Homo sapiens: one gene and its partner. The protein of the gene in region 2 interacts with the protein of the main gene of each other region in a pairwise test. Each region holds a gene or a part of one and is shown on either strand. Other genes may lie near its edges.

What was found.
Region 1: the proteins of USP36 (region 2) and TRIM26 interact in a two-hybrid assay, tested with the Homo sapiens proteins (one large-scale study listed by BioGRID).

What each region holds. Positions count from the first base shown.
Region 1 is NC_000006.12:30,206,783-30,210,601, reverse strand, and holds part of TRIM26 (tripartite motif-containing protein 26), read left to right. Parts: intron 1-3,819.
Region 2 is NC_000017.11:78,834,076-78,837,894, forward strand, and holds part of USP36 (ubiquitin carboxyl-terminal hydrolase 36), read right to left. Parts: intron 2,997-3,819; exon of another isoform or gene 2,822-2,996; intron 2,298-2,821; 5' UTR 2,289-2,297; coding exon 2,036-2,288; exon of another isoform or gene 1,924-2,035; coding exon of another isoform or gene 1,907-1,923; intron 1,427-1,906; coding exon 1,205-1,426; intron 1-1,204. UniProt on the Homo sapiens protein: Deubiquitinase essential for the regulation of nucleolar structure and function. Required for cell and organism viability.

The DNA of each region.
Region 1 (3,819 bases), on a different chromosome or scaffold from region 2:
GATTGAGGGGACTCCTGTATGAATGTATCTTTAGCGGATGGGGGGTGCTACTGTATGAAGCACTGTGATAGTGCTATTGTAGAAATACAGTGTATGCAAAGCTGCAGGAGGAGGGATACATTCAACTCAGAGGTGGGATGGGTACAGGAAACACCTCACAGATAAGGGGACAAATTGTATTCAAGCCTTCAAGGATGCGCTGGACTGGAGAGAAGAGCATGTACAAGGGAATGGGTGGAGAGTGGGGAGTGAAGAAGGGGCTGTCTTCCTGGTTCAGTGTATCTAATGGCCAGAGAATTAGGTAGGACGAGGAGGGATTTGGGGCTGGATGGGTAAGTTGGGGCTAGCCGGATGCAGGGCAGGGGAGGATGTCTGTGCAGTTTTTTTTTTTTGTTTTGAGTCAGAGTCTCGCTCTGTCACCCAGGCTGGAGTGCAGTGGCGTGATCTCAGCTCACTGCAACCTCCGCCTCCTGGGTTCAAGCGATTCTCCTGCCTCAGCCTCCCGAGTAGCTAGGACTACAGGCGCGTGCCACCATGCCCGGCTAATTTTTGTATTTTTAGTAGAGGCTGGGTTTCACCATGTTGGCCAGGATGGTCTCGATCTCTTGACCTCATGATCTGCCCACCTCGGCCTCCCAAAGTGCTGGGATTACAGGCGTGAGGCACCGTGCCCGGCCACCTGTGCAGTTTTGACCTCAGCTAGTAGGAGTTTTTTTGGTGTGTTTGTTTTTATTTTTATTTTTATTTTTATTTATTTATTTTATTTTAGAGACAGTCTCTCCCTATGTTGGCCAGGCTAGTCTTGAACCCCTGGATTCAAGGGATCCTCCTGCCTCAGCCTCCCACAGTGCTAGGATTATAGGCATGAGGCACCAAACCCAGCCTCAGCTAGGAGATTTGAAGCAGGAGAATAACAAGGATGAGATCCTGTGTGCTAGAAGGATGATCCTGGCAGCACTTTTTAGGAAATATGCCACATCTCACCAAATCTAAGATGCTATTTGTCTTAATCCATTTTCTGTTGCTGTAACAGAATACCACAGACTGGGTAAATTGTAAACAACAGATGTTTATTCAGCTCACGGTTCTGGCCAATGGACTCTTGCAAGAAAGGCATTAATCCATTCATGAGAGTTACACCCTCATGACCCAGTCACGTCTTAAAGACCCCACCTCTTAATACCGTTACATTGGCAATTACGTTTCCAACACGTGAACTTTTGGGGGACATGTTCAAACCACAGCACCACCAAATCTTTTATGTGCCCTTATTTTATGCTCCACATCAAAAAAATATTTTGCCAGTTAAATTATGACATGCAATTGATCACATTTCAGAGATGCTAAAATGTGATGTCACAGGTGTCTCAAATTTGATGAAAAGCACTAACTCCCTTGCTGATGGCTTAGATTCCTCCCTTTCCCTGGATTAATGGTTAGGATGTCTCCATCTCACTAACTCATAGATGGTAAGTTACCAAGGGAAAGAAGAACAGAAGCTGGGTGGGCCCTTCCCCTTCTCTCCCCAAAGATAAACATTTACAACATTTACTGGTTGGGTCGAGGAGCACAATATCTGGTCTGCTGCTATAGGATTCCTTGGCCTGTTATTGGGCCTGTCTCATGCTGTTTCCTTTTGGGGAGTTAAATACACACACACACACACACACACACACACACACACACACACACACACATATTCTATATCCCATCCTCCAGAGTGGCAAAAATTAAAGCTGATATTATCAGGTGTTGGTGAGGCTGTGGGGCATCATGAGTGCTCATAGCCTGCTGAGCAGACTACATAGCACTATAGTCACTTTGGAAACAGTTTGGCCTGCTTAGTCAAATTGAGGGTACATCTTGCCTGTGTGTGCTAGAACATGTATGCAGAAATATTCACTGAAGCAGTGTTTGTAATTGTCCCAAACTGGAAACAACTCATATGGCTATCAGTAGACTGCATTAAAAATTGTATAGTTAGAGAGCAGCAATTAAGTAAAATCAGCTCATAATCACATGGATGAGCCTCACAAACATGTTGACAGCCCCCCACCCAAATACATGGAAAAAAAAAAAAAAAAAAGGAAAAAAATTCCATTCATTTGAGGCTCAAAACCTGAGAAAATAAACTCTGTTTATGGGGTGTATACCTAGGTCTAAAACTAAAGAAAAGGGAAGGAGTGATTCTCACTATTACAATTTACTCCACAACAACCATTTTCTCAGACACAGCTTTTTCTTCTCCTGGTTTCTGTAAGTTGCTGGAGCGAAACCTTGGATACGATGATTTGCTGGTGACGTGCAGCCCACTGTTCTTGCTGCTACAGGGAATATGAAGAAATTGCTTCTCTCTCTACCAATTTACTACCATCTTGCTGGAGAGAAAGGGCAGGTGGCTAAGATTGTTCGCATTCCTTCAGCAGATGTGTAGGAAGCATCTTCTTTGTGTCAGATACTCTGTGCTTGTGCTTTGTTTTCTCAGTCAGTTTTTATTGTCTACTCTGTGCCAAGTAATATGTAGATTCTGGTGATAAGACAGACACAATCTCTCTCCTTGTTTCATGGAAAAAGCTGGTGTTAAGCGAGTAATTACACTAATAAGTCAGGACTTAAAACTGCAGAGAAGTACAGGGTGCAGCATGGGGTGTTTTGGGGCTGTATAACTAGACTACATGTGGACCCAATCTGACAGGTCAGGAAAGAATTGCCAGAGGAGGTGGCTTTCAGCTGAGACTTCAAGCTAGAAAAGGCATTTGCTAAGTGGGAAAGGGATGGTGTTCTAGGCAGAAGGAATTACATTGTCGAAGGGCTTAGCCAGGAAAGAGCATAGCACTTTGAGGCATGGAGAGCGGTTTGGTTTGGCTGTGAGTTTGAGGTGGGGAGTGGCAGGAAATGAGCCTGGAGACACAGGCTGGGCCATGATTATCTGGGAATCCAGCTAGGATCTCCTGGGACAGCCTCCTCACAGAAGAAAGGAAGGACAGGAGTTTTGACTTTATTCCTGGAGCACCAGAAAGCCATTGAGGGGTTTAACCTGGTTGGTCACCCGGGCAGATTGGCAGTTTAACACGTGACCGAGTGTGTTTGAGGATCAAAAGGCCAGAGTGGCTGCAGCACTGGGGCAGCAAAGGGGAGAGGAGGTTTATGTAAATCAGGAAACCCTTGAGGGTTTGATGATCCCACAGTTGGATCTGATTTCAGCTTCTAAAGGATTCCTCAGGTCACTGGATGTAAGTTCTGGTAGGACAGGGAGTTTGCCACTTTTGTTCTCTGCTGTAACCTCGGTGCCTGACACATAGTCGGCACCTAATAAACATCTGCTAGCTGTTGAATAACTTTCAACATCCTGCTGCTTAAACCCTCAATGGCTTCCCAGGGCTGTTAGGATAAAGTCCAAAATTCTTAACCTGGGTCACAGTCTTGCATAATCTGTTCCCTCCTGTTTCTCCACCCTTCCTCTGCTCGCCTCACTGCACTCCACCTGTGGCCAATTGTCAGCTCCTCAAATTCACCGCTACCCTTTCTCCGGCGGATGATTTCCTCTGCCTGTGAGGCTAACCCTCCACAGCACTCCATATGGGCAGGGAAGAGTTCATTTTCCAGGCACCAAAGTGCAGTGTATGGTGGAATGGAAGGAGCCCAGAGCTGGGAGGTGCACCTCACCCCACCTCGTGCTAGTGCTGGCCTTGCTGCCAGCCAGCTCTGCTGCTGGGCAAATGAGTCCGAGGCTCTGGCACTCACTGTCCTCCTCTGTAAATAAGGGGTTCTAGTGATTCACAGTCCTGGATAGACTTTAGAATCTCCTGGGAAGTTTGT
Region 2 (3,819 bases):
ATCTCTACTAAAAATACAAAAATTAGCCAGGCGTGGTGGCGTGCGTCTATAGTCCCAGCTATTTGGGAGGCTGAGACAGGAGAATTGCTTGCACCCAGGAGGCGGAGGTTGCAGTGAACTGAGATCACACCACCGTACTCCAGCCTAGGCAACAGAGTCCGTCTCAAAAAAAAAAAAAAGTTACACAGAAATAACATTGTCTCTGCTTGGGGTTTTTTATGGGAAGATTTTTAACCAATGCTTTAATTTCTTTAATAGTTAAAAGACTCTTCACTTTCTATTTCTTTCAGTTTTGGTAAGTTATATCTTATTTCACCTCTATTTTAATCAAATAGAGCACACCACCACATCCAGCTAATTGTTTCGATTTGTTTTTTGTGTGTGTGAGATGGAGTCTTGCTCTGTCACCCAGGCTGGAGTGCAGCGGCATGATCTTGGTCAGCTCACTGCAACCTCCACCTTCTGGGTTCAAGCAATTCTCCTGCTTCAGCCTCCCGAGCAGCTGGGATTACAGGTGCACCCCATCACGCCTAATTTTTATATTTTTAGTAGAAACCGGGTTTCGCCATGTTGGCCAGGCTGGTCTCCAACTCCTGACCTCAAGTGATCTGCCCACCTCTGCCTCCCACAGGTGTGAGCCACCGTGCCCGGCCTTGATTTGTTTTTGTAGAGATGGGATCTTGCTGTGTTGTCCAGGCTGCACGTTTTATAATACACATAAGATATGCTGATACAACAACAGATGCATAAAACAATTGGGCTAGGCATGGTGGCTCACACTTATAATCCCAGCACTTTGGGAGGCTGAGATGGGAGGATCATGTGAGCCCAGGAGTTCAAGACTACAACGAGTTGTGATGGAGCCACTGCATTCCAGCCTGGGTGTCAGAGCAAGATACTGTCTCTAAAAAAATAATATTTGTATATATATATATATATATATTTTGGAAGTATCTTTTGAAAACGTTTCTGTCTGGGTAATTATTTACAGAAAAGCTTGGCGAACACAGCCCCACCTGACCGATTCACCTTCATGGCCCATTCTGCAGCAGGCATGATTCAAATTTAGGTTTCATCAGTTACTATACATTATGAACTACCCTCCTAAATTTGACCCAGACTGAGAGCAGCAGTGCCACAAGTGCATGGGCTTATCTAATCCAGAGGACCCACAGCCACCCCACTGCTGCAAACCCACACTCACAGCTGCGAGCATGCTCCTTGGAGAGCAGGTAGTTGGCTAGAGGTGGTGTGTAGGTCAAGCACTGGATGGTGGCATTGAGAAAGCAGGTGTTGCCAAGGTTGTGGAGTCCTGCGCCCACGCGGAAGACCCGCTCCCACCTCAGAGACAGTCGCTCCGTGGGGAAAAGCACTTTCTGCGGGGCTGGGACTCCGTCACCACAGCTCTCATACGTGTGCTCACTGCCTGAGGAAGAAAGGGACAAGGGAAGAAAAGAGGAAGACGTAAGTCCACACACAGGTCGTCCACAAAAAGAAACTCCTGAAGCATACACTTAGCATGCAGTGACTCGGAACATGGCACCAGAGAAGAACTGGTGTTCTGGTTTACAGGACATTCCTGGAAAGCTCAGGAGTAAACCCAGCCATCCCACGGACCTCCTAGGCTGCTTGGCTAAAGAATTCAAGGGCCCCTCTATAGATGGAGGACACAGCTCAGAGACTGAGTGGCGGAAGGAGCCAGGCCTGGCACTCTGCACCACACTGTGCCCACATGCAGCCCACCCCATTTCTCTTTCTTAGTTCCAAGCCTGACTTTCGACTGTATTATACTTGGGATAGGGGGACAGCAAGTCCAAGGACCCACCAAGTACACAGATCCACCAAGCACACAGATTTCCTTGCTACCAACCCTGTATCATTACTTCTATAACTGAAATCCACTGACCCCATGTAAAAATTCATAACTCTTTGACCACATTCTCTTGTTTTTCCTACTAATTAGTCAATATTTAAGTCCATCCACTTCGTCACCCCGGAGTGAGGGCCTCTCTGCCAGCACACTGCACATCTGTACCCTGTCTCCTGGCCGGTGGGTCATCTCCACTCTTGTGGCGACTAGCTCCCTCTGTTTTGGGGTTGAGCAACACATATTTGCTCTTTAAGGCCTCCAGCTGGTAGGAGAAGCTCTTGCTGGCTGGCTCGAACTCGATTTTCTGTAAAAGGACCTTCTTGGCAGAGGAGGCAAGAAGCTTCCCCAGTTCTCCATCATCAGCCGAGTCCTTGCGGCCGGGTTTCAGGGCCTCCTTCAACTTATCCACTATTGGCATGGTGCATCACTGTGGGGACAAGAAGAAACATAGAGCCATAGATAACGAAATCCCGGGACAAAAACATCTCTTAAGATCTCCTCTTTGGTCATTATGGATGCTAGCCACCACAAAAGCTCCCCTGGATCAGTGATCCCCTGGATCAGCTGCACAAAGGAAACAGGGAGACCCAGCACTAATCACTTGGACATATTAGTTCACATTTCCCCCACAAAAAGATAAGATGCCACTACAAATAGAGGTGAGCAGACAACAGTGGCCCTGAGGCAGCCAGACAGCCCCTGCCATGTGCATCTCTTCATCAGATACTCATCAAGTGGCTCTGGACATCATTCTTGGTGCCATTTCCTTCCAAAGGTCATCACGTGGTCCAAATGTCTGCTCCAAAACAGGGGCACACTAATTCTCACATACAAACTGGTTATACACACACGGACACACACACACACACACACAAACGGACACACACACACACACCCACGCAATAAATGAATTAGCATGCAGGTCAGATGAGCATGCATGTCTGTACAGACCTGCACTCTTCAATATGAAGGCCACAGGCCACACGTGGCTACTGAGCATGTGAAATGAGGCTAGTCCAGGTTGAGAGGTGCTATAAGTGTAAAATGCACACCAGATTTTGAAGAGAAATACTCACTAGTATAAGAAGAGAATGTAAAACATCCCAGTAATTTTTAGATCAGTTACCTGTTGAAATGGTAATATTTTATATATATTGAGTTAAATAAATTATGAAAATGAATTTCACCTGCTTCTTTTTAATGTGGCTACTATAAAATTTTAAATTATATTTGTGGCTTGTATTAATCTCCATTACACAGTGCTTGGAGTACAAATTATCTTTTTAAAAGTGAGGAAGGAGAAGAAAAGCAAGTAGCAGGCCTAGAGACTAGTATCCATTAGACACCTAAACTTAAACAAATGTCTTCCCAGGACTCTTATCAAAAGAGAAGAAGAAAAGCCAAGCAGGAGAGTGGGGAGATCACAGGCTTTGGAATGTGGTGGCCCCGGGAGGTTCTATCATCCTTAGCTATGAAACCCAGGGACAACTACTATGACTTCTCCAAACCCCCTATTCTACTGTAAAATAGCAACAAAAATAATAGGCTTGGGAAGTGCTTTAGAGCTTGCTACATACTACAGTCCCTAACAGAGGATCGATACTGTTGGTGCAGCTGCATGGAAACTGTAACCAAGAAGAGACCCCTGCACCTCTCCAATCGCTACCTTTGTATCCACCACTTGCCCTCCCCTACCCACCACCTCTCAACTTAACCTTCCCAAACACAGCACAGACTATCTGAGTCACAATTTCAAAAATATGTCCCTTAAATTGCTCACTCACATCAGAAAAATGATGACTTCCTCTGGTATTCAGTACCCAGCCTGCCCTCAGAGAATCAACAAGTCAAGTGTGCCCCAAAATTCTGCTCTAGTGAAAGTAAGGACTTCCTCCAGCACCTCATATTAAGCCATTCAAATTTATCACTGTGGATCATCTAATTCTATA